Homo sapiens: one gene and its partners. The protein of the gene in region 1 purifies or fractionates together with the protein of each later gene. This does not show direct contact. Each region holds a gene or a part of one and is shown in the gene's direction. Other genes may lie near its edges. The genes, in order: ARHGEF10L, NOP58, RPRD1A, PRP4K, DDX50, HP1BP3 and ARCN1.

The links.
Region 2: the proteins of ARHGEF10L (region 1) and NOP58 purify together in Homo sapiens (affinity purification with mass spectrometry, with the first as the bait; one large-scale study listed by BioGRID). This does not show direct contact.
Region 3: the proteins of ARHGEF10L (region 1) and RPRD1A purify together in Homo sapiens (affinity purification with mass spectrometry, with the first as the bait; one large-scale study listed by BioGRID). This does not show direct contact.
Region 4: the proteins of ARHGEF10L (region 1) and PRP4K purify together in Homo sapiens (affinity purification with mass spectrometry, with the first as the bait; one large-scale study listed by BioGRID). This does not show direct contact.
Region 5: the proteins of ARHGEF10L (region 1) and DDX50 purify together in Homo sapiens (affinity purification with mass spectrometry, with the first as the bait; one large-scale study listed by BioGRID). This does not show direct contact.
Region 6: the proteins of ARHGEF10L (region 1) and HP1BP3 purify together in Homo sapiens (affinity purification with mass spectrometry, with the first as the bait; one large-scale study listed by BioGRID). This does not show direct contact.
Region 7: the proteins of ARHGEF10L (region 1) and ARCN1 purify together in Homo sapiens (affinity purification with mass spectrometry; one large-scale study listed by BioGRID and IntAct). This does not show direct contact.

What each region holds. Positions count from the first base shown.
Region 1 is NC_000001.11:17,636,895-17,641,164, forward strand, and holds part of ARHGEF10L (rho guanine nucleotide exchange factor 10-like protein), read left to right. Parts: intron 1-993; coding exon 994-1,109; intron 1,110-1,667; coding exon 1,668-1,795; intron 1,796-2,343; coding exon of another isoform or gene 2,344-2,347; exon of another isoform or gene 2,348-2,937; coding exon of another isoform or gene 2,938-2,959; exon of another isoform or gene 2,960-3,087; intron 3,088-3,307; coding exon 3,308-3,408; intron 3,409-4,270.
Region 2 is NC_000002.12:202,285,940-202,290,209, forward strand, and holds part of NOP58 (nucleolar protein 58), read left to right. Parts: intron 1-1,720; coding exon 1,721-1,785; intron 1,786-4,270. UniProt on the Homo sapiens protein: Required for the biogenesis of box C/D snoRNAs such as U3, U8 and U14 snoRNAs. Part of the small subunit (SSU) processome, first precursor of the small eukaryotic ribosomal subunit.
Region 3 is NC_000018.10:36,022,242-36,026,511, reverse strand, and holds part of RPRD1A (regulation of nuclear pre-mRNA domain-containing protein 1A), read left to right. Parts: intron 1-833; coding exon of another isoform or gene 834-914; exon of another isoform or gene 915-1,626; intron 1,627-4,270. UniProt on the Homo sapiens protein: Interacts with phosphorylated C-terminal heptapeptide repeat domain (CTD) of the largest RNA polymerase II subunit POLR2A, and participates in dephosphorylation of the CTD by RPAP2.
Region 4 is NC_000006.12:4,062,088-4,065,949, forward strand, and holds the end of PRP4K (serine/threonine-protein kinase PRP4 homolog), read left to right. Parts: 3' UTR 1-2,896; downstream 2,897-3,862. UniProt on the Homo sapiens protein: Serine/threonine kinase involved in spliceosomal assembly as well as mitosis and signaling regulation. Connects chromatin mediated regulation of transcription and pre-mRNA splicing.
Region 5 is NC_000010.11:68,935,815-68,939,314, forward strand, and holds part of DDX50 (ATP-dependent RNA helicase DDX50), read left to right. Parts: intron 1-191; coding exon 192-265; intron 266-1,121; coding exon 1,122-1,281; intron 1,282-3,500. UniProt on the Homo sapiens protein: ATP-dependent RNA helicase that may play a role in various aspects of RNA metabolism including pre-mRNA splicing or ribosomal RNA production.
Region 6 is NC_000001.11:20,745,808-20,749,307, reverse strand, and holds part of HP1BP3 (heterochromatin protein 1-binding protein 3), read left to right. Parts: intron 1-1,652; coding exon 1,653-1,764; intron 1,765-3,500. UniProt on the Homo sapiens protein: Component of heterochromatin that maintains heterochromatin integrity during G1/S progression and regulates the duration of G1 phase to critically influence cell proliferative capacity.
Region 7 is NC_000011.10:118,588,980-118,593,249, forward strand, and holds part of ARCN1 (coatomer subunit delta), read left to right. Parts: intron 1-1,361; coding exon 1,362-1,527; intron 1,528-3,729; coding exon 3,730-3,877; intron 3,878-4,270. UniProt on the Homo sapiens protein: Component of the coatomer, a cytosolic protein complex that binds to dilysine motifs and reversibly associates with Golgi non-clathrin-coated vesicles, which further mediate biosynthetic protein transport from the ER, via the Golgi up to the trans Golgi network.

The sequences.
Region 1 (4,270 bases):
CCTAGCGTTCAAGGCCTTCCCCATCTGGTCCTCCTGGACCCTCCTGCTCTATCTCTACCTGCCACCCCCTACCCCCATCTCACCCTTACTCCATCTGTATCATCACTGGTGATCTGGGCCCCCTCACCCCATCACTGTCCCACCACACTGATATCTTTCTCCCCACCACCTCCTACCACCCACCATTGTTAACTGACTGCTTCCTCCGCCACTTGTCCTGCCAAGGTCATAAGCTCCGGAAGAATGAGGACCCTGTCTGTCTTGTGTACTGCTGTCTCCAGTCTCTAGCATGGAGTCTGGCACACGATAGGTCCTCAGGATGTCTTTGAACAACTTGCTGTTCATGGGCTGCCTCAAGCCACAGTGCCTTTGCACACGCTCTTGTCTTTCTCTCCTGGCAGTGCCCACCACACTTCCAGCCCTATGCAGGCCCCTCCTCTCTCCCAGGCACAGCTTGCTCTTGGTCTTGTGGTCTCATACAGCCCTTTGTACAGACTGACTATGGCCTGGATCTCAGGTGTTAGACTTTACTCTTGAAAGGATCTGGCTTCCCAGCTAGTCTGGGCGCTCTGGTCAGGGTAGGAACTGGATGTTACTTTCTGGAACTCTTTCTTTTTTTTTTGGGTTGGAGTCTTGCTCTGTCACCCAGGCTGGAGTGCAGTGGCGTGATCTCGGCTCACTGCAAGCTCCGCCTCCCAGGTTCACGTCATTCTCCTGCCTCAGCCTCCTGAGTAGCTGGTACTACAGGTGCCCGCCACCATGCCCGGCTAATTTTTTTCTTTGTATTTTTTAGTACAGACGGGGTTTCACCGTATTAGCCAGGATGGTCTCGATCTCCTGACCTCGTGATCTGCCTGCCTCGGCCTCCCAAAGTGCTGGGATTACAGGCGTGAGCCACCGCGCCCAGCCTCTGGATCTTTTTTGTTGTGAGCAGATGCTTGGCTTCTTGTTAGCGCCTTCACCTGTGCCTGAGTTGGTCTCTTCTCTGCCCAGATAAGGTGTACCTCGGCCCCCCACGCCTCTTCCAGGAGCTGCAGGACCTGCAGAAGGACCTGGCCGTGGTGGAGCAGATCACGCTTCTCATCAGCACGCTGCACGGCACCTACCAGGTACGTGGCCTGGCCTGACCTTTTTGGCCTGAGCTCCCCAGTGTGGGCAGTGCCTGGATTCAGAAAGCTGAGTAGGGAGGGGCTCCTCTCCTGGCCCATGTCCCCGATGTGCTCCTAGCTTCTGAGCTCCTGTTGGCAACTGTCGCTGCTGAAGCTCCATGTCCCTGCCTGGAAGTCTCTTTTGCGGCCGCTGGTTCGGGCGCATCCTCTGGTTTGGGTTGAGTGGAGCCTGGCTGTGGGGCCTTTGTTTGTTCTCTGCACAGTGGCCATTCCGTTATGTGGCCCCTCCTGGGCCTCTACCCAGTGTGGAGGGGAAGCTGGCTGCGACGGCATGTCCCTCTCAGAGGAGGGCTCCAGGTGGGATCTGAGCCCAGGGCTGGGAAGCCTGGGGCATGGCGAGTTGGCCTCCTGCGTGGGGCTAAATGTGCAGCCTCAGTGAGGCTCCAGGACTTCTTCAGTTTCTCTTCCTCTGGGGTGCTGTGATTCCTATAGGATCTGGTGTGGCTTTTGGGGAGCCAGTGTGCTGTGTGGTGACCTCATTGGCCTCCTGAACCCTAGAACCTGAACATGACTGTGGCTCAAGACTGGTGCCTGGCCCTGCAGAGGCTGATGCGGGTGAAGGAGGAAGAGATCCACTCGGCCAACAAGTGCCGTCTCAGGCTCCTGCTTCCTGGGAAACCCGACAAGTGAGAGGAGGGGGTCTTGGAGGGAGGGCTGCTGCCTCTGCTGGGCTTCCAGTGGAGCAGGGGATCCGGAGAGGGTACCTGGAGCCCTCTTATTTGTCGAGATGCCATGGTGGGAGTGGATATGTAGGCATCGTGGGCCATGTCTGGGATAGCATCTGGCACGCAGTAGGTGCTCATGAAAAGACTGTGGAATGAATGAATGAATTAATGAACAGCCTGGTCATGTCCTGGATAAGCCTGGCCCACTGTTAGGATACTCAGACACTCTGCCATTGGTCAGTTCCATTTGCGCTGTGTCCTTTTCAGTCACTTCAGCCTATCTAGGCCCCCAGGCCAGGCCCTGGGTTTCCTCTCTCTGGACCCAGCCTCCCCCCAGCACCACCTTAGCCCCAGAATGCCCACCACAGGAGCTGTGCACAGTAGACCCCAACTGAGGTTTGTGGAACTGATGACAGCCATAGCTGCTCGGCCTGGCAGAGACAGGGAACGGGATCTTTCTGGTCCTCCTGAGGCTTTGTAAGTTGGGTCTTTTTATTTCCATTTTACAGATGAGGAAGGTGAGGCTCAGAGTTTCAGGAGAGGCTGAAGGCCACATCGTGAGAGACAGAGCTGGGTCCTGATGAGGTCTGACTCTGAAGCCCAGGCCAGTGCAATGAGGGGGCTCAATGCCCAGGTTTTGGCCTCCAGGGTGGGGTGAAGGTGGGGATAGAGTGTCACAAGCACAGTGGCTGCAAGGAAGAGAAGGTTGGAGCACTATCATTTGAGGTAGGACCATGGGCTCAGTCCCCCAGGGGACCATGTGTAGGAGTCAGCAGCTTTGAATCTGCCGCCTCCCTGTTGAGTGGCCTGTCCGTCTCCCTTCCTCCATCTCCCTTCTCTCTGCCTCTCATTCTCCACGTGCACCCTAGAGGCTTGTGACACTGCCCTGCCCACCTCCCAAAGGGCTGGGAAGGCCCCCACTGCTCTGAGGTGAGAGGACAGCGTGGTGACAACAGCAACCTCTGGTTGCCCCAAGCTGGTGCTTAACCTGATTCATTCATTTCTTCATTCATTCCTGTGTCCACTCAGCAAACATTTACTGAGCAACTGTCCCATGCCAGGTGCTGGGAACAGACCCAAGTGAGACCCATTCCTCCCTCTAGAGGCACGTGGTCAGACATGTAAGGTGTCTAAGACCTGTGGACAGCTGACCGCTGACCAGGTGGAGTCACAGCCTGCAGAGGCTCTGCCGGGCACAAAGCCAGAGGCTCCTGGAGCCAGGCTGGGGAGCGTGGCTCAGCCACCCTGGCCAGGTACCTCCCTCTGGGGGTCATTGTGGGCGGAGGGATTCCTCCCCCAGGGGACCGAGGCTTTGCCAAGCCACTGACCTCTTTGGCCACGTTTTGGGGATGCTCTGACCAGACCTCCTTGATCTCCAGGGCGCGTGGGTTGGAGGAAGTACTACGTGACAGCTGGGGGAGCCTGGCCCTTGTGTGGGTACTCACACATCCACTCTAACCCTTCTCACCACAGGTCCGGCCGCCCCATTAGCTTCATGGTGGTTTTCATCACCCCCAACCCCCTGAGCAAGATTTCCTGGGTCAACAGGTTACATTTGGCCAAAATCGGACTCCGTGAGTATAGCCCCAGGGAGAGTGCCTCAGGGGGCAGGGGTGTGGAACGGGGAGGTTTGGGGTGAGTGAGGGTACAGGATGGGTGTTCGGGGTCAGCGGGGGGCAGGGAGGCTTCTGAGTGGGAGGGAGGTGGTGCGGTGGAGAAACAGCTGGGGCCAGAGCCGGAGGCTCTGCTTTGTGACCCTGGACAAGTCACTTCCCCTCTCTGAGCCTCAGCTTCCCCATCCAGGAATTGATGGAACTTGACAGAAAGTAAATTAGTGGTTGCCAGGGACCTGAGAGGAGAGGATAATGGAGAATGACTGCTAGACTGCTAGGGGTTTTGGTGGAGGTGATGAAAATGTTCTAAAATTAGATGGTGGTGATTGCTCAACTCTGTGACTACACCAAAAATCAGTGGCGTGTGCACTTTAAAAGGATGCGTTTTATGGTAACTGGATTGTATCTCAATAAAGCTGTTACCCAGAAAAATGATGCAGGTTGGACTATACTGATTCTCAAAGACCAAAGACCTCGTTACTATGTTTTTCTTCCTGTGCACCCCATGGTATGAATACAGATACATAAATGGATATTTACATGCACTTTTCTGAGTATTTTTTGTGCATCTTTTTCATTTCACATTCACAGTAGCCTTAAGAGTTAGGTCTGTTGAGAATCTCTTTTTCCATTGAGGATTCTGAGGCCCAGAGATGTGCGGGGACTTGCCTGAGGTCACACAGAAGGAAGGGGCAGATCTGGGCCGCAGACCCTGTGTGGCCTGACTCCAAAGCCCAGTCTCGATCCCCATCCATTCTGCTTCCTTGGCTTGGCAAGAGTCTGTCTGCAGACTGCATTCATTAAGTTATAATTACTTTACTTG
Region 2 (4,270 bases), on another chromosome or scaffold:
ATCCCAACACTTTGGGAGGCCAAGGCAGGCAGATCACAAGGTCAGGAGATCGAGACCACGGTGAAACCTCGTCTCTACTAAAAATACAAAAAATTAGCCGGGCACAGTGGCGGGCGCCTGTAGTCCCAGCTACTTGGGAGGCTGAGGCAGGAGAATGGCGTGAACCCGGGAGGCAGAGCTTGCAGTGAGTGGAGATCGCTCCACTGCAGTCCAGCCTGGGTGACAGAGTGAGACTCCATCTCAAAAAAAAAAAAAAAAAAGGGAGAAAGAAACACTATAGGCCAGGCGCAGTGGCTCACGCCTGTAATACATCCCAGCACTTTGCGAGGCTGAGGCAGGTGAATCATGAGGTCAGGAGATCGAGACCATCCTGGTTAACACAGTGAAACCCCGTCTCTACTAAAAATACAAAAAAATTAGCCAGGCATGGTGGCGGGCGCCTGTAGTCCCAGCTACTCGGGAGGCTGAGGCAGGAGAATGGCGTGAACCCGGGAGGTGGAGCTTGCAGTGAGTGGAGATTGCTCCACTGCACTCCAGCCTGGGTGACAGAGTAAGACTCCGTCTCAAAACAAAACAAAAAAGAAACACTACAATTTAAAAAGGTCTATTTTAAAATTAAAAGGTGGGCATAGATTGAAAGGGTTGAAGCTGCTAAGCTAGAGTTAAGAGCAAAAATGCACAAAGGTTAGGGAGAGCTTTGTAATAAGCATTTCTAAGAGAGAACAAATAGTGAAACTGAGTCAAAAATCCAAACCTGGGTAAATCTGCATTGTGTATAGCAGTGGTTCCCTATCAAGGGCAATCAGATGTCCCCCCAGTAGGCATTTGTCTATGTCCATAGACATTTTTGGTTGTCACAATTGGAGGTGGGTTGGGGTCTGCCATGAGTATCTGGTGGATAAAAGTTAGGGATACTGCTAAAGGTCCTATAATGCACAGGGCAGCCTGTACAACAAGGAATTAGGCCCAAAATATTAATTGTGCTGAGATGAAAAAACATTTTTATACAGACAATATTGTTACTCCACAGCTTTCTGTTTTCAGATGTTAAGAGTCCTGCAAAGTTCCTAACTGGTAGTATAAAGCTTAATATGTGCTATTAAAAATTGCATGAACCAATATGGCTTTTTTTTTTTTTTTTTTTTTGAGGCGGAGTCTTGCTTTGTTGCCCAGGCTGGAGTACAGTGGCACGTGATCTCGGCTCACTGCAACCTCTGCCTCCCCGGTTCAAGCGATTCTCCTGCCTCAGCCTCCAGAGTAGCTGAGATTCAGGCGTGCCCCACCATGCCTGGCTAATTTTTATATTTTTAGTAGAGACAGGGTTTCGCCATGTTGGCCAGGTTGGTCTCGAACTCCTAACAGGTGATCTGCCCACCTCGGCCTCCCAAAGTGCTAGGATTACAAGCGTGAGCCACCACGCCCAGTCCAATATGACTTTTGTATTACACAGCTTATCCTATTTGTCATTCATACATAAACTCATTCATGTTACAGAAATAAAGGTCGTAGCAGCACATATAGTTTTTTTTTTTAATGTGTATTTTCTGTTCTCGTATGGTGCATTTCTACTTAGCTGATTTTTCTTCTTAGAAAAACCAATTACAGCTCTGACTACAGGCTGATTTGAGTAAAAACAAAAACAAAAAAAAACTTTAAGGTGTTAATTTAAATGCTTTTCCTAGATGCTATCTTGCTAATTTATTTTCCCCTTTCTTCCCAGCCTGTCTCGATATAGATTGAAGTTTAGCGCTGATAAAGTAGACACAATGATTGTTCAGGCAATTTGTAAGTATAGTACATGCAAAGTCCGATTTGTTGCTCTGTCCTTCATGCGTTTTCATACTGTTGAAACTATCTTTTATGATTCTGTCTGTTGAGAAAGAGAAAGGAGGCCAGGTGTGGTGGCTCAAGCCTTTAATCCCAGCACTTGGGAGGCTGAGGCAGGCGGATCACCTGAGGTCAGGAGTTCAAGACCAGCTTGGCCAACATGACAAAACTCTGTCTTTACTAAAAATACAAAAAAAATTAAATGTGCATGGTGGCGTGTACCTATAATCCCAGCTACTCAGGAGGCTGAGGCAGGATAATTGCTTGAACCCAGGAGGCGGAGGTTGACTATTTGGAGATTATATGAATCACAGAATTAACATTACGTTAATTAATTCATTTGTATTTTTCCATGAAAATGTTAAAAACATAAGTGCAATCTTTGTAGTTGTGTATTCTGCTGTGTCATTAAATGGTTTTTAGAAAGCTCAAAAGCTGCCAGGCACAGTGGCTCATGCCTGTAATCCCAGCACTTTGAGAGGCTGAGGCGGGAGGATCACCTGAGGTCGGGAATTTGAGACCAGCCTGACCAACATGGAGAAATCCCGTCTCTACTAAAAATACAAAATTAACCAGGCATGGTGGTGCATGCCTGTAATCTCAGCTACTCGGGAGGCTGAGGCAGGAGAATCACTTGAACCCTGGAGGCAGAGGTTGTAGTGAGTTGATCGTGCCATTGCACTCCAGCCTGGGCAACAAGAGCAAATCTCCATCTCACTAAAAAAAAAAAAAAAAAATCAAAATCTTAATCGTTTTTCTATTTTAGAAATGCATTCGGCCGTGGCTCACGCCTGTAATCCCAACACTTTGGGAGGCAGAGGCTGGTGGATCACCTGAGGTCAGGAGTTCGAGATCAGGCCAACATGGTGAAACCCGATCTTTAGTAAAAAATAAAAAAATTATCTGAGCATGATGGTAGGCGCCTGTAATCTCAGCTATTCAGGAGGCTGAGGCAGGAGAATCACTTGAACCTGAGAGGCGGAGGTTGCAGTGGGCCGAGATCGCACCATTTCACTCTAGCTTGGACAACATGAGCAACACTCCGTCTCAAAAAAAAAAACAAAGTATTCGGCTGGGCGCAGTGGCTCACACCTGTAATCCTAGCACATTGGGAGGCCAAGGCGGGTGAATTGCCTGAGCTCGGGAGTTTGAGAGCAGCCTGGCTAACATGGCGAAACCCTGTCTTTACTAAAAATACAAAAAAGTAGCCAGTCGAGGTGGCGTGTGCCTATAGTCCCAGCCACTTAGGAGGCTGAGGAAGGAGAATCACTTGAACCCAGGAAGCAGAGGTTGCAGTGAGCTGAGATCGCACCACTGCACTCCATCCTGGGTGATGGAGTTAGACTCTGTCTCCAAAAAAAGAAAAAAAAAAGCGCTCAACCAGCGATTCCTTTCCTAGATTTATACCCAAAAGAATTAAAAACAGAACTGAGTTGCTTGTACACCTATGTTCATAACAGTGTTATTTACAAAACCAAACAGTGGAAACAACCCAGATACCTTTTAACAGATGAATGGATAAACTGCATTGTGGATGCAGCTTGAATGTCCCTAATCTGAAATTCAAAATGCTCTGAAATCTAAAACTTTTTGTGGTACCACACAAATCCACAAGTGGAAAACTCCACACCTGACCACACGTCAAAACTTTGTTTTATGCACAAAATTATTTAAAATATTGTGTAAAATTACCTTCAAGGTTTTGTATATAAGGTATATGTGAAATGTAGATGCATTTCCTATTTAGACTTCGAGTTCCATCCTCAGCCTCATACGTGTTTGCAAATACTCTGAAATACTTCTGGTCCCAAGCATTTTGGGTAACGTACACCCAGCCACTTCACACAGTGGAATGTTAGTCAGCCTTAAAAAGAAATGAAATTCTGATACATATTTCAACATGATAAACCTTGAAAATATGCTAAGTGAAATAGTCACAAAATACTGCATGATTCTGCTTATATGAAGTACCTAAAATAGGTGAACTCAGAGACAGAAGTATAAAGATAACTAGAGGTTGGGGGGAAGGTGGGAATGAGTTACTGTTTAATGGGTACAGAATTTTTCAGTTTCTGATGATAAAATTGCTCTGGCAATAGATCCTGGTAATGGTTGCATAACATCATAAGAATACTTAATGCTACTGAATAGTACACTTGAAAATGGTTGAAGTGTTATTTTTTATTCTTTTTTTTTTAAATTTTTTGCGACGGAATCTTGCTCTGTCACCCAGGCTGGAATGCAGTAGCACGATCTCGGCTCACTACAACCTCCACCTCCTGTGTTCAAGTGATTCTTCTGCCTCAGCCCTCCAGAGTAGCTGGGACTACAGGTGTGCACCACCATGCCTGGCTAATTTTTGTATTTTTAATAGAGATGGGGTTTCACCATGTTGGCCAGGCTGGTCTTGAACTTCTGACTTCGTGATATGCCTGTCTGCTGG
Region 3 (4,270 bases), on another chromosome or scaffold:
GTCTTTAAATTACTCCCTTAATTCCACCCGCCAATTCTAATGCTTACATGTTCCAGCCCCACTCCCGGCTCACACTCTTAGGCAGAAATTCATTGCTCCTGTAAATTAAGTAATAATTAATACCGCTAATGAGAAATCTGGGAGTACAGGAGGTGATTTTAAAAAATGCTCGTATTTCCTTTGATTAGAGTAGCAATTGTTAGGGATACATGAGCCAGATTTGGTTTTATGTAAAAAAAATCTTTCAGTTGATGAGTTCTTGTTTAAATTGTATTGCTGTGGCAATTTCTTATTGTAATAATATGTAGGAGAATTTCTAATTTGAATCCCTTTATTTACAGAAAGCTCACTGTAAATTTGTAGGAATGTCATGGTACTACCCCATTAAGTTATTTTTATTAGTGTTTAGTTATTGATTCAGCAGTCTCTAATTGTGCCAAAAATGGTGCTTAGATTAGATTGCCATTGCTACCCATGGGAGCTGCTACTTAATTATTCCCACCTCAAATTCCCAGCTCTCAAGTTAGCACTACTCCTTTGCAATTTACTCCTTCTCTGCTCGTATAAATACCCTCAGATGATGATAGTTGGTGGCCACTATACCTTTGAAGAGGTTGCCCACTTCTACATGGAAAGGAAAAGATGGTTTTTTTTTTTAAAAGATGAATTTGATAATTAACTTGCCACTATTTCACCTTGTGATGAAACCTCAATTTTAAACATAGTGTTAATTGTTTTATTGTCCACAGAATTAAGGGTAAGTAATGTCATACAATTTTTGTCTTTAGTCTTTTAGTATGGTTTCTTTAACTTCTATTGAGCTTCTGTTGCAGATATTGGACATGGGCGTATCTTCTAACGATGTCGTCACCATTAGTATATTCTTCCTGCTAAAAATAAATATCAAACCCTGAAGCCTGTATTGTCTCATGTTTTTGAAAATTGAAGAGAAGACTGTAACTTTATTCTGCTTTATACTTTCTCACTTATGATGATGGTCATTTGTCACTGTTTACAAAAACAGAATTTATATTTGAAGTGTAACTGTAGAAAATAGATCAGATGCCACTCCCCACAACCCCCTTTTCCCCCAGTGCCTTCCAGCCACATTTCATAGTTGACAGTCATAGATTATGAGGCTGATGATAATAATAATGTTAACATTCATGTGTCAGGTACTATTCTAGGCACTTCACATAAGCAACTCATTTAATCTTACACAGCAGGATGTATTATCCACATTTGATAGATACAGAACTGAGGCACAGGAAGATTAAGTAACTTGCCTAAGGTCACAAAGAGCTAGTGAGTTGTTTGGAACGCAGAGAATCTGCCTCCAGAGCCAGTGCACTTCATCAAAAAGACACATTGCTTCCTGTTTTTACTTAAATCTAAGATTAAAGCAAATGCTAAAGTCCTATTTTTTCCAACTTTTTCTGCTCCCTCTCTTCTCAGAGGTAATCACTGTCTTGAAATAAAGCCTTCTAGGAACTTTTTTTGTTGTTCTTCTGCATAACTGGATTTTATATTATAAAGAAGAAATCACCTCAATTATGTTCAGCTGTTTTTTAACAAGTAAATACTCTTTACAAGTACAGAAATAAACTTGAAAGTTATTCCACAGAACTCTTTGTAAATTATCACTTAGAACTATGTTATTCCTTTGTAGAAGATGTGGAAATGATTTGAGATATTTAGACTTTTTTGTACCAAGTAGGTGGCATCACTTTGAAGTTGAGACTGAGAGGTGAAGATTTATGTTTTCTGAATCAGCTGTGATACTATCAAGTAATTTTCATCTATTGTGTATCTTTGAACATTAACAGTGGTTGACCAGATACTGATGTGTCATTTGTTGCTGCATTTTTGATAATGGAACATAAATTTAAAGTATCAGTTCGGGAATTGGCCATTTCATATTTCTTAAGGAAGCCATTATTAAAGCATGTGTAATGAATGAAAACATGAAGTGGTTTAAAATTTGTGTTTTAAGACAATCATTATTTTTGAAACTTCTGACTATAGTTGGTTACTAAGCAGAAGCAGATAACTGTTGGGCCGGGTGTGGTGGTTCACGCCTGTAATCTCAGCACTTTGGGAAGCTGAGCTGGGTGAATCACTTGAGGTCAGGAGTTCAAGACCAGCCTGGCTGACATGGTGAAACCCCATCTCTACTTAAAAAAAAAAAAAAAAAAAAATTAACCAGGTGTGGTGGTGGGTGCCTGTAGTCCCAGCTACTTGGGAGGCTGAGGCAGCAGGATCACTTGAACCTGGGAGGTGGAGGTTGCAGTGAGCTGAGATCACACCACTGCCCTCCAGACTGGGCGACAGACCGAGACTCCATCACGCGCGTGCGCGTGCACACACACACACGAGATAACTGTTAAAATAGACTATTAATAACTTTAGTTTACATTTATAATATTTAGGGATTGCTATAGGAATCATTTTACCATTATGAAGTTGAAAGTATTGCATAAACTGTTTTTCAGTTAGCTTATTATCTTGGAAGGCATACATGAATAGGAGAATTAAAATGACATTTTGACTTTGACATTGTTTCCTAGTACATACAAAAGTTATGTTTACAACTTTACTGTTGTCTAAGTATTACAATTACACTTTACTGTTGTCTAAGCATTAGGATTACATATAAAATTACATATAAAAAATGTACGTATCTTAGTTAAAAATGCTTCATTGCTAAAAAAGACTAATCATCTGAGCCTTCTGTTAGTCATAGTCTTTGCTGGTGGAGGGTCTTGCCTTGATATTGATGGCTGTTGACTGATTAGGGTGGTGATTGCTGAAGGATGTGGCTATGGCAGTTTATTAACACAGTGATAAAGTTTGCTGCATCAGTTGACTTCTTTCTTGAAAGATTTCTCTGTAGGATGCAGTACATTTGATAGCATTTTGCCTACAGCAGAACTGCTTTCAAAATTAGAAGCAATTTTCTCAAGCCCTGCTACTGCTTTATCAAGTAAATCCTTTGTTGTCATTTCATCTCCACTGGGAGTAGATTCCATCTCAGGAAACCACTTTATTTGCCCATCCATAAGAAGCAACTCCTCACCAACAAGTTTTATGAGATTGGAGCAGTTCAGTCACATCTTCAGGCTCCACTTCTGTGTCTCGTTCTCTTGCTATTTGCAGCAGATCTACAGTTATTTTCACCACTGAAGTCTTGAACCCCACAAAGTCAGCCATGAGAATTGGAGTAAACTTCTTCCAAACTCCTGTTAATGTTGATATTTTATCTCCTCCCATGAATCATGAATGTTTTTAATGCCATCTAGAATTGTGAATCATTTTCTGAAAGTTTTCAGTTACTTTGCCGATATTCATCACAGGAATGACTATGGCAGCTATATAGCCTTACGAAATGTATTTCTTAAATAGTGAGACTTGAATGTCAAAATTGCTCTTTTATCTATAAGTGGCAGAACACGTGTTAGCAGGCATGAACACTAGTCACATTGTACATCTTCATCAGAGCTCTTGGGTGACCAGGTATGTTGTCAATAGTAATTTTTTATTATTGTTATTTTGGAGACAGTCTCTTGTTCTGTCACCCAGGCTGGAGTAGTCATGCAATCACAGCTCACTGTAACCTCGAACTCATGAGTACAAGTTATCTTCCTGCTTCAGCTTCCAAAGTAGCTAGGACTGCAGGTGTGTGCCACCATGCCTGGCTAATTTTTAAATGTTTTGTAAAGAAGAGTTCTTGCTGTGTTGCCCAGGCTAGTCTTGAACTCTTGGGTCAAGCAGTCCTCCCACCTGGGCCTCCCAAAGTGCTGTGACTACAGGTGGGAATCACTACATCTGGCCAATAGTAATATTTTGCAGGTCTCAACAGTTGGCTTAAAATACTCAGTAAACTATGCTGTAAATAGATGTATTGTCATCTATACTTGTTTCTTTTATAGAGCACAGGCAGAGTAAATTTAGCATAATTCTTAAGGACTCTAGAATTATTCAGAATGGTAAATGAACATTGGCCTCTACTTAAAGTCGTCAGCTACTTTAGCTCCTAATGAGGGCCAGCTTGTTTGTTGAAGCTTTGAAGGCAGGCATTTATTTCTCTCTAGCTATGAAAGTCCCAGGTGGCATCTTCTTCCAGTACCAGGCTCTTTTTTCTACATGGAAAATCTGTTGTTTAGTGTAGCCACCGTCATCAACGACCTTAGCTAGAGCCTCTGGGTAACTTGCTGCAGTTCTTAGTTCAGCCCTTGCTGCTTCACTCTGCACTTCGAAGTTACGGAGACAG
Region 4 (3,862 bases), on another chromosome or scaffold:
AAAATCCTACAAATATTGTCAGCTTTCAGTGTAGTGAGATTATTCCTGTAGGTTATGGGGTATAATTCAGGATTTAACTAATGTTTCTGCTATTTTCTCACTTTTCCTTTTGATGGTGCGGAAAGAGAAAAAGGAAAACGGGGCACAGGCCATTCGACGCCTTCTCCAAGGGGTCTGATTTGCTGAGACACCAGCTTCACCTTCTTAACAAGGTTATTTCTGACAGCATGTGTAGATAAACATTTAGCAACAATTTAAGACAAAATCGTTTAAATCAGCTTGGTTTTGCAACACAAAGGAATTTGTATTATTAACATGGTAGAAGAGAATTTTTCAGAAATATATGTAATCTTTGCTGTTTGGGGGGTAAAATTAATGCTTGTCTCCCTGAGGAATATGGAAAATAATCAGATTTTAGGGGTTTAAATAATATTTTTAAATTGTAAATGGGATTTTTTTATTCACCCAGGCACCTAATTACAACAAGCATGCACATTTTGGTGCATTCAAGAATGGAAAATCAGAATAGCAGCATTGATTCTTCTGGTGGGTTTTGCTCCATTTAAAGACATGAAATGAACTACAGCCAGGAAGGTGATAGATGATATAATAAGCCACCTCTGAACCTACACCCCGTCTCTTCACGGTTTAGACTTACTAAAATAAATACAAGGTGATTTTCATCTTCAGGTAGAGTGAAGCCTTTTAATTAAGGCGTCACAGGTGCAGCTATTCTACCTTAATGAAATGGGTAGTGATTTTCCCACCATTATTTATTTCGGTGATAATATGCTGCATATTCAAGTCTCTTGTAGTTATTTTCACCCAAAGTAGTTGACAATTTGATGCTTCTGGTGATGTTTATGGCTTCATTTTATGTAATTTTTTAAGTAAGTTCCACTAGAAACAGTTCATCTTATACCTTCAAAACTGTTACCTGTTCTTTAAAAAACAAAGTTGCTTGTTACTTGTTCTTTGTGTTTTAGGTGCAGCTCAGTGGAAGATGATGACAACCAGAAGACATGAGCTAAGGTTTCTGTCCTATAAAAGATTTATTAAAAAACAATCCTTCATTTATTTTTTGTCTAATTTTTTAGTTTTCAGCATTATGATTTGGGTTTTATTGGTGTTTGGTATTTAGAATTAGTGCTGTTGTGGAGTGCGTCTGTAAAGTGCTTGTTTTATCATACTTCCTGCCTCTCCCCTCCCCCAGTTTCTCCTCCCCTAAAATAAAAATAGTGGTCAACTTTAGTAATATAAAAGGCTGCTGGATGCTGAGATTCCACATAACACATGGTTGTCAAAATTGGATGTTAAGGATTCTTAGAAAAACAGCAACCACCAGAATAGCATATATCTGAAAGTAGTCTTCAGCTTTAGGCAGATGCAAAAGAATACAAACTGGAATATTAAGAATACTGTTCAACTCCTTTAGTATCTGTTCCCCAACTTACCCTGTAGAAACCTCGTTATTAACCAGTGTTCCAGTCTTAAAGTAGACAAAATATTCAGAGCCATTTTTTTTAAGGGAAATGAAAAAGATACTCTGGGTTTTTTATACTCCCCAATTTAGCATATCTAGACTACCTATTTGAAAGGAACCCTATCAACTGTCTTATGTACGTTACATGATTTTCCTACACTCTGTAATTTTGCTGAGGTGCAATTTGGAACTCTGCAAGACCTACTAGATTGAATTTATTTAGTGAATGCTCCTGAATAAATGTGCATTCCTCTTTTAGAGTAGCTGTATGCTTTTCAAATGCTATCTGCCGTGAATTTTTTGCTTTTATTATACTTTATGGCAAAAGTGATATCAAGTGATTGTCAGACTTGAGGGCTCATAGAAGTGTTAGGTACGGCTCTCAAAGATGTTACAGTTTTTTCTAGGGTTGGGAGAATAGTTGAGATCTGGAAAGCATAGACATTTTTTACACTCTGGATAGACTTTATTCTTGAAGATCATCAGAAATGAGGTTGGAATTTCGAGGTTTTGAGCAGGGGGAGCATCTTATATTCACCCTTAAATCGTTATTAATACATCCTGTTTTCTTCATTCCCTGATAGCTATCTCATTTCACTCTACTGTCTCAAAATTTTGTTTTAAAATAATAGAAATGTTTTGCCATTATTAAGTACCACTTTATTCCTAACAAAAATAAGTACTCAGGACTTTTTTTTCAAAATGAAATATTTATGTACTGTTTTATGGTATGTGGTAGAGTAAGTAAAATGTAATGTTCTCAGTTTTGTTCCATATTTGCATTCCTCTTATGCTTTACCTGTATTTTATCATTTGTAAGCAGAACTCTAGCTATATGGGGTAGAAATAAAATCTCTGAGATGAAACAAAGGAATCAACATGATAAAATTTAGGCGAAGTAGTTAAGAAATGGCCCTTTTGAATGTTGAAGATAGGAAAGAAAGCCATATATTCAAATATGTAATTTTCCTCATTTAGTTATAATGACATCTTTACCAATTGGGCTTCATAAATGTGTTTCTTTCTTAATAGTATCCTAGTTCCAGCATATATTCAACATGAATTTTATCATTCTCCTCCTAATGGAATGTCTTCCTTATAGAAATGTTCACGACAAATTCATTTGTGTTTTTTACATGTCAATAATGTATGCTAAATTAAAATGTTTTCCAGTTATTCTGATAGATGTCATTATGGCATCCTTAATTTTTCTTCTCCTTCTGTATATAGGGTAAGGGACTGTTCTGAAGAACCTTTCCATTTAGTGATCAAGATATGGAAGCTGATTTCTGAAAATGCTCAGTGTGTACTCTAATTATTTATGGTACCATTTGAATTGTAACTTGCATTTTAGCAGTGCATGTTTCTAATTGACTTACTGGGAAACTGAATAAAATATGCCTCTTATTATCATATTGTCTCCTGGTTTTTTTCTTTGGTTGAGTTCAGATTTTCCTCACAAACATCAAAACATTTTCAAAGCATTAGGTGCACAACACCAAAGAGTGTATTATATTCGTGTTCCTGTTACATACATTTCTGCTTTGGTTTTCCTAGTAAAGGAAACAGATAAGTAATGAGCCAACTCCTGTTTTTATAATGATAAAAATAAATTGGTTCATTGCTCACATGATAGCTTGACAAATCTTGGGCTCTTATCCTCAGTATACCCACTCTTTATTTTCTTCTTTTAAGGAACTGTTTTTGGCTTTTCAAAACAGTGAGTAAAATAGATTCACAGTGTAGTTTGTGAATCTTAGTGCATGCAAAGCAGATAAGGCAGGCAGAATGGCCTTGTAGAATGCACCCACCCACCCCATTGGAGCTAACCACCGCAGAGTGGCAGGTAGAAGCTAGTATGCTTGATTCTGGGCTGAGAAATGGTCAAATGGCACTGGCTCTGGATAGTCTTCATGTAAAGGCCCCAGTTATAATTTTGTTAGACTGCATAACTATCTAAAGTGGCTATGAGGTTATTGTATCTGGTACATTTTAGGGAAAATAGTATGCAGGATGTATTGGTTAAGGACCTTTCACACATACTTTTTTTCTTTCTTTTTTTCTTTTTTTTGAGACGGACTCGCCGTCTATCGCCAGGCTGGAGTGCAGTGGCACGATCACAGCTCGCCTCCGCCTCCTGACCTCAGGTGATCCACACGCCTGAGCCTCCCAAAGTGCTGGGATTACAGGCATGAGCCACCACACCCGGCCACACATACTTTCTCTAATTAGAAAGATTCAACCTCATGAAGATCCAGTGAGCTGAGGACCATCAATGACTGGAGAGCTAAACATGGGTATTTATCAGCAAACTAGGTTTTCCCGAACAGAATTTATATGTGTGTTATAAACTGCCAAATGTTTTCTTATTTAAAGATA
Region 5 (3,500 bases), on another chromosome or scaffold:
ACAGAGCAAGACTCTGTGTCAAAACAAAAACAAAAACAAAAACAAAAAAGATAAAACTGATCTTTTAATCTGCTAGGGCTATGAAATCTTTAAATGCAAGAAATAGAAATTCAACGAACTATTAAAATATTAATTTAGGAATTAATTGTAAAGACTTCCATTTTTCTTTAATGTAACTCTTTCATTTTCAGGGAATTACTTTTAAACGTGTAGGTGTTCCTTCTACAATGGATTTAGTTAAATCTAAAAGCATGGATGCCATCAGGTATGCTTTCTGAACTTGCTGAATAATTGTTTCTTTTGTATTAGGCTATTCATCTGTAAGCTCTCCCAGTTCAAATAGCAGAAAATTTTACCACCAGTTTTACCAGCAGACATTTAGTTATATTAAAATATAAAACAGTGGCTCATGCCTGTAATTCCAGCACTTTGGGAGGCTGAGGCGGGCAGCTCATGAGGTCAGGAGATTGAGACCATCCTGGCTAACACGGTGAAACCCTATCTCTACTAAAAAAATACAAAAAATTAGCCAGGCGTGGTGGTGGGCGCCTGTAGTCCCAGCTACTTGGGAGGCTGGAGCAGGAGAATGGTGTGAACCTGGGGGGCGGAGCTTGCAGGGAATCGAGAGTGCACCACTGCATTCCAGCCTGGGCGACAGAGCAAGACTCTGTCTCAAAAAAAAAAAAAAAAAAAAAAAAAAAATATATATATATATATATATATATATATATATATAAAATGTGGCTGGGCACTGTGGTGCACGCCTGTAATTCCAGCACTTCGGGAGGCTGAGGTGGGCAGATTGCTTGAGCTTAGGAGTTTGAGACTAGCTTGGCCAACATGGCGAAACCTTGTCTCTACAAAAAATACAAAGATTAGCCAGGAGTGGTGGCGCGTGCACCTGTAGTCCCAGCTACTTGGAAGGCTGAGGTGGGAGGATTGCTTGAGCCCGGGAGGTTGAGGCTGCAGTGAGCCAAGATCGTGCCAGTGCGCTCCAGACTGGGTGACAGAGCAAGGCTCTATCTCAAAAAAAAAAAATTACTCCTTCTTTTTCCCATTTTTCTTCTTATCTTTTATTTTTTCCCTATGTCTTGACCAAGAATACTATTTTTAAACCATAGGTCTCTGGCTTCCGTTTCTTACGCTGCTGTTGATTTTTTCCGACCATCAGCTCAGAGACTGATAGAAGAGAAAGGTGCAGTGGATGCATTGGCTGCAGCTTTAGCCCACATTTCTGGTGCATCAAGCTTTGAACCACGATCTTTGATCACCTCTGATAAGGTAGAAATCTGTGAGAAAATTGTACATGAGTGGGAAAAGGTTAAAATTGAACATAGGAAATATTGTAGTGAATTATTGTGCTTTTTGTGCAGAAAAAAACTGTTTTGCTCTATGAGAAACTGGTCTCCTTATTTTCCTCTACTCCCTAATAAATCCTTTTTTGACAATCACCTCTTCCAAATTTTTCAAACCCACAGAAAAACTGAAAGAATAATGCAGTAACCACATACGATCCACCTAGATTCAACTGTTAAAAGTCTGTATCATGTGCTTTATATCCTTTTTTAGCTCTAATTTGTAATTAAAAAAAAAATGACATGTAATAATTGTACATATTTATAGGGTATGTGGTGATGTTTCAGTACATCCGTACATACCATGTATAGGTATCAGATCAGGATCATTAGCGTATCCATCGTCTAAACATTTATCATTTCTTTGTTTTAGGAACCATTCAATATCTTCCTTCTTGCTTTATAACTTTATAAGTTTTTTTTTTTTTTTTTTTGAGATTGAGTCTTGTTCTGTTACCCAGGCTGGAGTGCAATTACGTGATCTTGGTTCACTGCAACCTCTCCCTCCCGGGTTCAAGCAATTCTCCTGTCTCACCCTCCTGAGTAGCTGGGACTACAGGCGCACGCCACCATGCCTGGCTAATTTTTGTATTTTTAGTAGAGACAGGGTTTCACCATATTGGTCAGGCTGGTCTCAAACTCCTGACCTCAGGTGATCTGCCCTCCTCAGCCTCCCAAAGTGCTGGGATTACAGGCGTGAGCCACCTCACCCGGCCTGTATTTTTTTTCTAAATCATTTGAAAGTAAGTCGAAACACCGTGATATCATCCCTAAATATTTCAACATGCATCCTCTGAGAATAAGGATATTCTGCTACATAACCACAATATAATAAGCTCATCTGTGAAAATTAATGATAGTTCTGTATCATCATCTAATATTTAGTTTATATCCATTTTTTTCTCATTATCCTGAAAATGTCTGTCTGTCTGGGTATTTGGAGAGAAATATAGGAAATGCTCACTTTGCACAGACCTTTGTTAACTGAAACTTGTATCCCAGAACCTACATTTCATTTTGTAAGTTTCCATGGAATCCTGCAAAGTAAGAAATAGACTCTGCACAATTAACACAGTAGCATGCAAAGTAAGTAAGAAATGCCTGTGTGTGTGTGGAGGGGTTGTGTAAGTGTAACACCATCTGAACTGGCCTGCTGCCAGATTCGTATCACATGTCAAAACATACCACACCAGAACCATTGGTGCAGGTAGCTCAGAGATTTTTTACTTATTCAAGTATAAGTGAGGGGAGTTTCTTGGTGAAGAGAATTTTAAATAAGAGTTCTGTTATGTCTGAGTGGAGAGAGTGAGTGAGCGAACCTGGTCCTGGAGACATCTATAAGACTAGAGCCTGCTGGTGGGATTTTCAAATAATAACAAAACAGACTAATTTGGGCAGCACATCCCTGTGATGGGGAGGAGGAAACAAAAAGGGCAGGGCAGGTTCACTTGGATGTGACTTATTTGGTGTAGCACAAATGAATGCTGCTGGGGTATCTGATGGTTTCTACCTGGTAGGTGTTAATAGTTTAGCTAAATGTCATTTTGCTTTGAGTGACTTATTGGGCTCCATTCCGTTTATCCATATGTGTACATATACCTATTTGTATGTATGTTTTTAAAAATTCAGGACCTAGTTAAGTTTTACATGTTACATTTGGTATTATGTCTCTTTAGTCTCTTTTAGTCTGGAACTGTTTTCTCATCTTTTTAATTTTTTTCTGATATTGATTTGGTGAAGAGTCTTGGTCGGTTGTTTGGTAGAATATCTCACTGTCTGGATTTGTCCGAATCTCTTCAAGCATCATTTAACTTTTGCCTTTATCCTCTTTTAAACTGAAAGTAATATCAAAGCTTGACTTTTATATTTAGGTGAAATGTTTTTGGCAAGGGTACTTTATAGTTAATATGTACCTCATATTGCATCACATCAAGAGGCATAAAATGTTAGGTTGTTCCAGTACTAGTAATGCTTAATTTGCATTTGTTTAAGATGGAAACTGCCATATTGTAAAGGTGTATTTTACTCTCTGTAATTAGTAACTTGTGGGGTGATACTTTAGCATTGAGCAGATATCCTATCCCTAGTAACCCACCAAATGCTTAAGACAGTATTTAAAACATATTTCTTTAGAAAATATTGAGA
Region 6 (3,500 bases), 3.1 Mb from region 1:
ACTACTGACTGAAAACCAAGAGGGAACAGCTTTACAAATTTCATATTTACAAAAAGAAAAACAAATAATCAAAACTGAATTCTTAATTTAAAGCATCTGCTTATAAGAAGTTGCTTTTACTGTAAAGATTTTTCTGATATTTATTGTAATTTAGATAAATCTCTAGGTTCAAAGCAACTCTAAATTATAGTGTATTTTTTCCTACTTTTGAATGTTCACCAAAAACATCTAATTTTACTTTGAAACAAAGCCAGGATTTTAGAGTACTTACTACTTATATTATTTCTTATTAACCTAAGCCCCACAACAGACAATACTTTATTTCAGTAAAGTATATTTACTCTAGGAGGTGGTGATTTGAGATGAGACACCCTGCCTTATCAGCATTATCGTGTGGATTGGTGAGACTGGGTGACTTCTCAATGAACTATTAGAAGAGGCACAATGTTGTAGGGTGAGGGATATGGAAATTAAGTAACAGAAGAAGACAATCCAGAATATATTATTGTAATTAAAAGGTAATTTTGAAGTCTTTTTTTTTTTTTAGACGGAGTCTCGCTGTGTTGCCCAGGCTGGGGGGCGCAGTGGTGCGATCTTGGCTCACTGCAAGCTCCGCCTCCCCTGGGTTCACGCCATTCTCCTACCTCCACCCCCTGAGTAGCTGGGACTACAGGCACCTGCCACCACCCCTGGCTAATTTTTTTGTTTTTGTATTATTTGTTTTTAGTAGAGACAGGGTTTCACCGTATTAGCCAAGATGATCTCAATCTCCTTACCTCGTGATCTGCCGGCCTCGGCCTCCCAAAGTGCTGGGATTACAGGCGTGAGCCGCCACGCCCGGCCTATTTCTATATGCCAGATGTTTTAAGAGAAGATGAATTTGGTTAACAAGCCTTTCAGTTTCACTGATATTTGCAGCTGTTTTTTGGATACTGAATCACCATAAAATATATTTTGGATATGTCTCTGTAAGAAAGATGAGAATGAAGGACTTCAGGAACCATGATATTGTTTTGTTACTGTTTACTGATTTATGAATAATTAGTTCTGTTCATCTTTATAAGAGATTCTCCTAGATGATTATCAATACCTATAGGTACACAATAGATGTTTAAGTGAATGGAAATAATTAAATACTTAGTTTTAGGTCTGCTGTTTATGTGCTACCTTAGAGCAAGTCACTTAACTACTTTGAGCTCAAGTCACTTAACCACTCTGGGCTTTTTTTTTTTCCCTGTGAAATAAGGTATTTGACTCAATGGTCTCTAATGTGTCTTTTCATTATAACTCTTGCCAGGTATGGTGGCTCATGCCTGGAGTCCCAGCAGTCTGGGAAGCCAAGGTGGGAGTATTGCTTGAGCCCAGGAGTTTGAGACCAGCCTGGGCAACATAGTGAGACTTTGTCTCTATATTTTGCAAAATTTTAAAATATAGATATATGTATGTATGTATGTATATAATTTAACTCTTGCCAAACTTATGGGCAATAAGTAAATGTTTAATTAAATACCTTTGAACACATAGGATTCACTTAGTGTATGTCAATTACCGTATGTGACAGGATATTAAATTGATGGGCATCTGTTTGTGGTTGAGGGAATTATCTAATCTGAATAACTAGATAACTTTCATTTCTGAATTTTTTTTTTCAGTGCATTTGCTGAAAAAAACCCTGCAGAAATGCGAAAAGAATGGGTGGATGGAACAGATCTCTGGGAAAGGGTTCAGTGGCACCTTCCAGCTCTGTTTTCCCTATTATCCCAGGTAAGTACTTAGCCTATAATAGATCACTGTAAATTTATAGTCTAAGTTACACACTCAGTTTAATTTATTTTACCCTTATTACTGTTTTAGTGAACTGGAAATACAGTCGTCCTTTGTTACATATAGGGGATTGGTTACAGAACTGCCCGCATACCCAAATGCGCATGTACTCAGCCCTGTGGAATCCATGTATCTGAAAAGTCTGTCCTCTTTGTATGCAGGCTTCGCATCCTGTGGATGTTGTATTTCTGATCTGTGTCTGGTTGAAAAAAAAAAGTCCACATATAAAGTGGGCTAATGCGTTGCCAACCTGTGTTGTTCAAGGGACAACTGTATTTGAAAATAAAGATGACTTTTAAGGCAGTATTATTTTGGAGTAAAAGGTTTTGTATAAAAATAGTGATTTTAGCCAGGCATAAGATTATTTGAGATCCTCGGATGGTCATTTTGATGTTCATTCCTTCTTTATCAAGTAAATGATAATGACAGATTCTTAGAGGATTATGTATAAGTTTTTGTTTTTGTTTTTTGAGACAGGGTCTCACTCTATCGCCCAGGCTGGAGCAGTGGTATAATCTCGGCTCACTGCAATCTCCGCCTCCTGGGCTCAAGTGATCCTCCCACCTCAATATCCCACGTAGCTGGGACTACAGGTGCGCGCCACCACACCCAGCTAATTTTTGTGTTTTTTGTAGAGATGGGGGTCTTACCATATTATCTAGGCTGGCCTTGAACTCCTGGCTCAAGCAGTCCTCTCGCCTCAGCCTCCCAAAGTGATGGGATTATATGCATAAGTTTTAATTGTCCAATACCAAGTGGGGAGAACATTGACTGTTTTCAAGAATCTTAACTCTACCTCCATACTGTAGAGACAGGAACACTTATCTGAAAATTTGTTTCTTGCAAATACCTTATTTATTCTTTGAAACAAAAAAATATATTGATCACCTCCTGTGGTCCAAGCATTGTTTCATGCACTGGGTTTAAAGCCTTTTGATTTCCAGTAAAGTACATAACATATACCACTAAGACCCTGTTTTAGCAAGACTATTGTGTAACTTTCTTATATTATTATTTCTGTACAAACATAAGTGTTACTTGGCTTAATACATATTATATAAATTTTTCGAACATTAAACATTAAATTTAATTCCCAAAGTCACACACACACAAAATGTTACATTCTGCCAGGTGTGGTGGGATGCACCTGTAGTCCTAACTACTTGGGAAGGTGAGGTGGGAGGATCCCTTGAGCCTAGGAGTTTGATTCCAGCCTGGGCAGCATAGCAAGACCCTGTGTCTGAAAAAGGCAAGAAACACACACACACACACACACACACACACACACACACACACATATATGTATGTATGTTATCATTTAAGGATATGTTAATCAAAGGAATCAAGGTTCATACCACCAAGGACAAAAAAGAGTTTAGGAGATCCTTGCCGAATACCTTTGAAGCTTTGAACAGATTTAGGCCTTTGAGGTCTTTTTTTTTAAGACTTGGAGGTCTTTTGCCAGTATTATGAGGCTGAAGTGTGTATTCCATGCAGACTGTTCATTGCTGTGTACTCATTGGCTAATACAGTGCCAGATACATATTAGGAGTTTAAGTAATTGTTTACTAAATAAATGACTATGGATTAATTTTATTAAATAGTGGGTATAGAATTAGGTATGGTGCAGGACTTTTATAGATTTGGCATAACTTTATATGTATGTTCAAAATACG
Region 7 (4,270 bases), on another chromosome or scaffold:
TGCACTCCAGCCTGGGCAAGAAGAGTGAAACTCTATCTCAAAACAACAACAACAAAAAGCTAAAAAAACTATCAGTGTAAATTTGTGAAGTTAATAATGGTACTGTGATTGATTATGTAAGAGAATATCCCTAATCTTATAAAATAAGCACTGAAGTATTTAGGGGTAAAGTGCCGTGTTGTATATAATCTGCTTCTTAATGGTTCAGGGAAAAAAAATCAAATGTATAACATACATATATAATGTTTAGAGAGAGAGAAACACAAGTGCAAATTATAAAACAAATGAGGTAAATATTAACAATAGGTGAATCTGGAAAAGGGTATATATGTCTTCCTTGTATAATTTTAATTTTTTTAAGCTTGAAAATACTTACAAATAGAAAGTTTTTTCAGTTGTTTGTTTTCTCACCATTGCCTACTATTCATTCGGGTGGATATGCCTTTATTTTTTATTTTTTATTTTTTTGAGACAGAGTCTCACTCTGTTGCCCAGGCTGGAGTGCAGTGGCACCATCTCGGCTCACTGCAAGCTCCGCCTCCTGAGTTCACGTCATTCTCCCACCTCAGCCTCCTGAGTAGGCGCCCGTCACCACACCCGGCTAATTTTGTTTTTGTATTTTTAGTAGAGGTGGGGTTTCACCATGTTAGCCAGGATGGTCTCGATCTTCTGACCTCGTGATCTACCCGCCTTGGCCTCCCAAAGTGCTGGGATTACAGGCGTGAGCCACCACGCCCGTGAATATGCCTTTATTTGAGCAGCCCCCTATTGGCAGACATGTTTCTAAACTTTTGCCATTACAAACAATTCTTCAGTGAATAACTTAGCAGATTGTTTTGCACAGGTGAGAATTTATCTGTAGGATAGAGTCTGTTGAAGAATTGCTGTATCAAAGGGTATCGCCTTTTAAATGTTGATAGCTATAGCAGTAGCACCTTTAAAAAAACGTTGTTGATGGCTAATCATTAGACCTTGGAGAAAGGGAGTTCTGATTTCTACCTTTCTTTTTTCTTTTCTTTTCTTTTTTATTTTTTGAGACAGAGTTTCACTCTTGTTGCCCAGGCTGGAGTGCAGTGGGACAATCTCGGCTCACCACAGCCTCTGCCTCGTGGTTCAAGCGATTCTCCTGCCTTAGCCTCCCAAGTAGCTGGGACTACAGGCATGCACCACCACGCCTGGCTAATTTTGTATTTTTAGTAGAGACGGGGTTTCTCCATGTTGGTCAGGCTGGTCTCGAACTCCCCACCTCAGGTGATCTGCCCGCCTTGGCCTCCCAAAGTGCTGGGGTTATAGGCATGAGCCACCACGCCCGGCCATTGGTTTCTACCTTTCTGAACAAATGTATTACTTTCTCTTTATAGTGTACATATGAAGATTGAAGAAAAGATAACATTAACCTGTGGACGAGACGGAGGATTACAGAATATGGAGTTGCATGGCATGATCATGCTTAGGATCTCAGATGACAAGTATGGCCGAATTCGTCTTCATGTGGAAAATGAAGATAAGAAAGGGGTGCAGCTACAGGTGTGTAGAAGCTTTTGATAGGGAGTATTAACACTTTGTCTACCTATTATAGTCTTTCTCAACTAGAGTTCCCAATATGAACCACAGAAAATTACTTAAGTTATATAACTAGCATCACTCTAAACGCTTAGGAAAGAAGTTAATATATTGCATACAGTAGCTACCTGAGAGTGAGTAAAGCAGCTGTGTAAGGATGGCTTTTAAATATTGGAATTGAATAAAAGGTCATTTCGAAATCTAATAAATGACTTCATACTCACCAATAAAAGGTACAAGGAGGTGTTTGTCTTTTGCTGTTATGAAAACAGTAAATTAATCACTTAGGATCTTGCTTGAAATACAGTTTTAAAAAAACAAGGCTTTAGGCCAAGTGTGGTGGCTCATGCCTATAATACCAGCACTCTGAGAGGCTGAGGCTGAAGGATCGCTTGAGCCCAGGAGTTCAAGAACAGCCTGAGCAATGAGGGCTGAGCAACAAGACCCTATCTCTACAAAAACTTAAAAAATTAGCCAGGCGTGGTGGCACAATGCGAAATTTACTCATTCTGCTATTAAATAAACTGCCAGTGCTTGTTTTGTTAACTGAAGGGCAGTATCTAATGGTGTATTTGAAAAGTACATAAAATCCTTTCAATATAAGTGTGTGTGTTCCAACTATTGGATAGATATATATAAGCCCTGCTTTATGTTACAGGTGTTCTTGTAATTTCATTTCATTTAGCCGACATCTCGTCACAAGAACAAAGCCTTTTTACGGAAGAGTGTTTTTGTCTACTTTCCCCACCGTAGTCAGCACAGAATTGTCTTTTGGAAGCAGTGCTTATATTATTTGACATTTTTGCTGGCTTGTAAAGTGCTATCCAAAAGTGATTTCTGTTTTGTTTTGTTTTGTTTTGTTTTCCTGAGATGGAGTCTCTCTCTGTTGCCCAAGCTGGAGTTCTGTGGTACGATCTTGGTTCACTGCAACTTCTGCCTCCCCAGTTGAAGCAGTTCTCCTGCCTCAGCCTGCTGAGTAGCTGGGATTACAGGCACCTGCCACCATGCCCAGCTAATTTTTTTTATTTTTAGTAAAGATGGGGTTTCACCATGTTGGCCAAGCTGGTCTCGAACTCTTGACCTCATGATTCGCCCACCTCATCATCCCAAAGTGTTGGGATTGTAGTCATGAGCCACCATGCCCAGCCCTTCTGGGTTTTTTTTGTTTTTGTCTTGTTTTTTTGTTCTTTTTTTTGTTTTTTTTTTTGTTTTTGCACAGTCTCTCTCTGTCATGCGGGCTGGAGTGCAGCAGCACAACCTTGGCTCGCTGCAGCCTTAACCTCCTAGGCTCAAGCAATGCTTCCTCTTCAGCCTCCATAGTAGCTGGAACTATAGGTGTGCACCACCACACCCAGCTATTTATTTATTTATTTATTTATTTATTTTTTATTTTTTGAGACGGAGTTTCACTCTTCCTGCCCAGGTTGGAGTGCAATGGTGTGATCTCGGCTCACCGCAACCTCTGCCTCCCGGGTTCAAGCCATTCTCCTGCCTCAGCCTCTCGAGTAGGTGGGATTACAGGCGTGCGCCACCATGTCCAGCCCCAGCTAACTTTTGTATTTTTAATAGAGATAGGGTTTTGCCATGTTGGCCAGGCTGATGTCAAACTCCTGACCTTCAATGCCCCTCTCACCTCAGCCTCCCCAAAAGCAATTTCTTTTAAAAAGATAAGACTATCTTAATTGGCTTGGATTTTAACAACTTTAAGTCTCTAGGCAAAATTGCAACTAGACTTTACACAGAGCTTGCCCTTTTCTGCTACTTTATATAAGGCCAGAACTGCTGTCTGACCCAGGCAGCTGATCAGGGTCTTACTGGAGCCTTCTGCTTGGCAAACCTGGCCCCACCATGAACCTGCTCCCTGTGAAGTATTTTTGGAAAGAACTTGGTTAATAGTCTTTTAACTTTTTCAGGTGCAAACTTGTTCTGTAATGGCTTTTAGAGTTGAAATTAGCTTTTTTTTTAAAAAATTACTAGTTTTTAAGTATCTTAAATCATTTTAAAATAAGTCTTTGAAGAAGGGAAATCTTTCTTCAAAATGAAAAAGAATTGGAATTTGTTAGGTACTCTATTTTGGATGTTTAGATTGTGGGCCATATAAGCCTAGTGAGGGGTTGTTTCTCGTCTATCTGAACCTCAGGAGTTTTCCTTTCCCTCTCATTCTAGACCCATCCAAATGTGGATAAAAAACTTTTCACTGCAGAGTCTCTAATTGGCCTGAAGAATCCAGAGAAGTCATTTCCAGTCAACAGTGACGTAGGGGTGCTAAAGTGGAGACTACAAACCACAGAGGAATCTTTTATTCCACTGACAAGTAAGTGCCTCTGGCCAGTCCCACTAAGCTAGTTTGCATTGAGAACTAGAAATAGCCCTTGCTGGTACACTTTTATTTTTATTACCATAGCAAAGTTCTTTCTGACAAAATGACTTTCTTTTGAAATGGACCTGGTGCTGCATTTTGTATATTTTTATCATTAGTTTTCATTTTTAATAGCTTTCATTTTGAAACCATTGTAGTTTTGTTGTTGTTATTGTTTTAGAGACAAGGTCTTCTTCTGTTGCCCAGGCTGGAGTGCAGTGGGGCAATCATAGCTCACTGCAGCATCAAACTCCTGGACTCAAGCCATCCTCCTGCCTCAGCCTCTTTAGTAGCTGGGACTAGGACTATAGGCACATGCCACCACATCCAGCTAACTTTTTTTAAAAG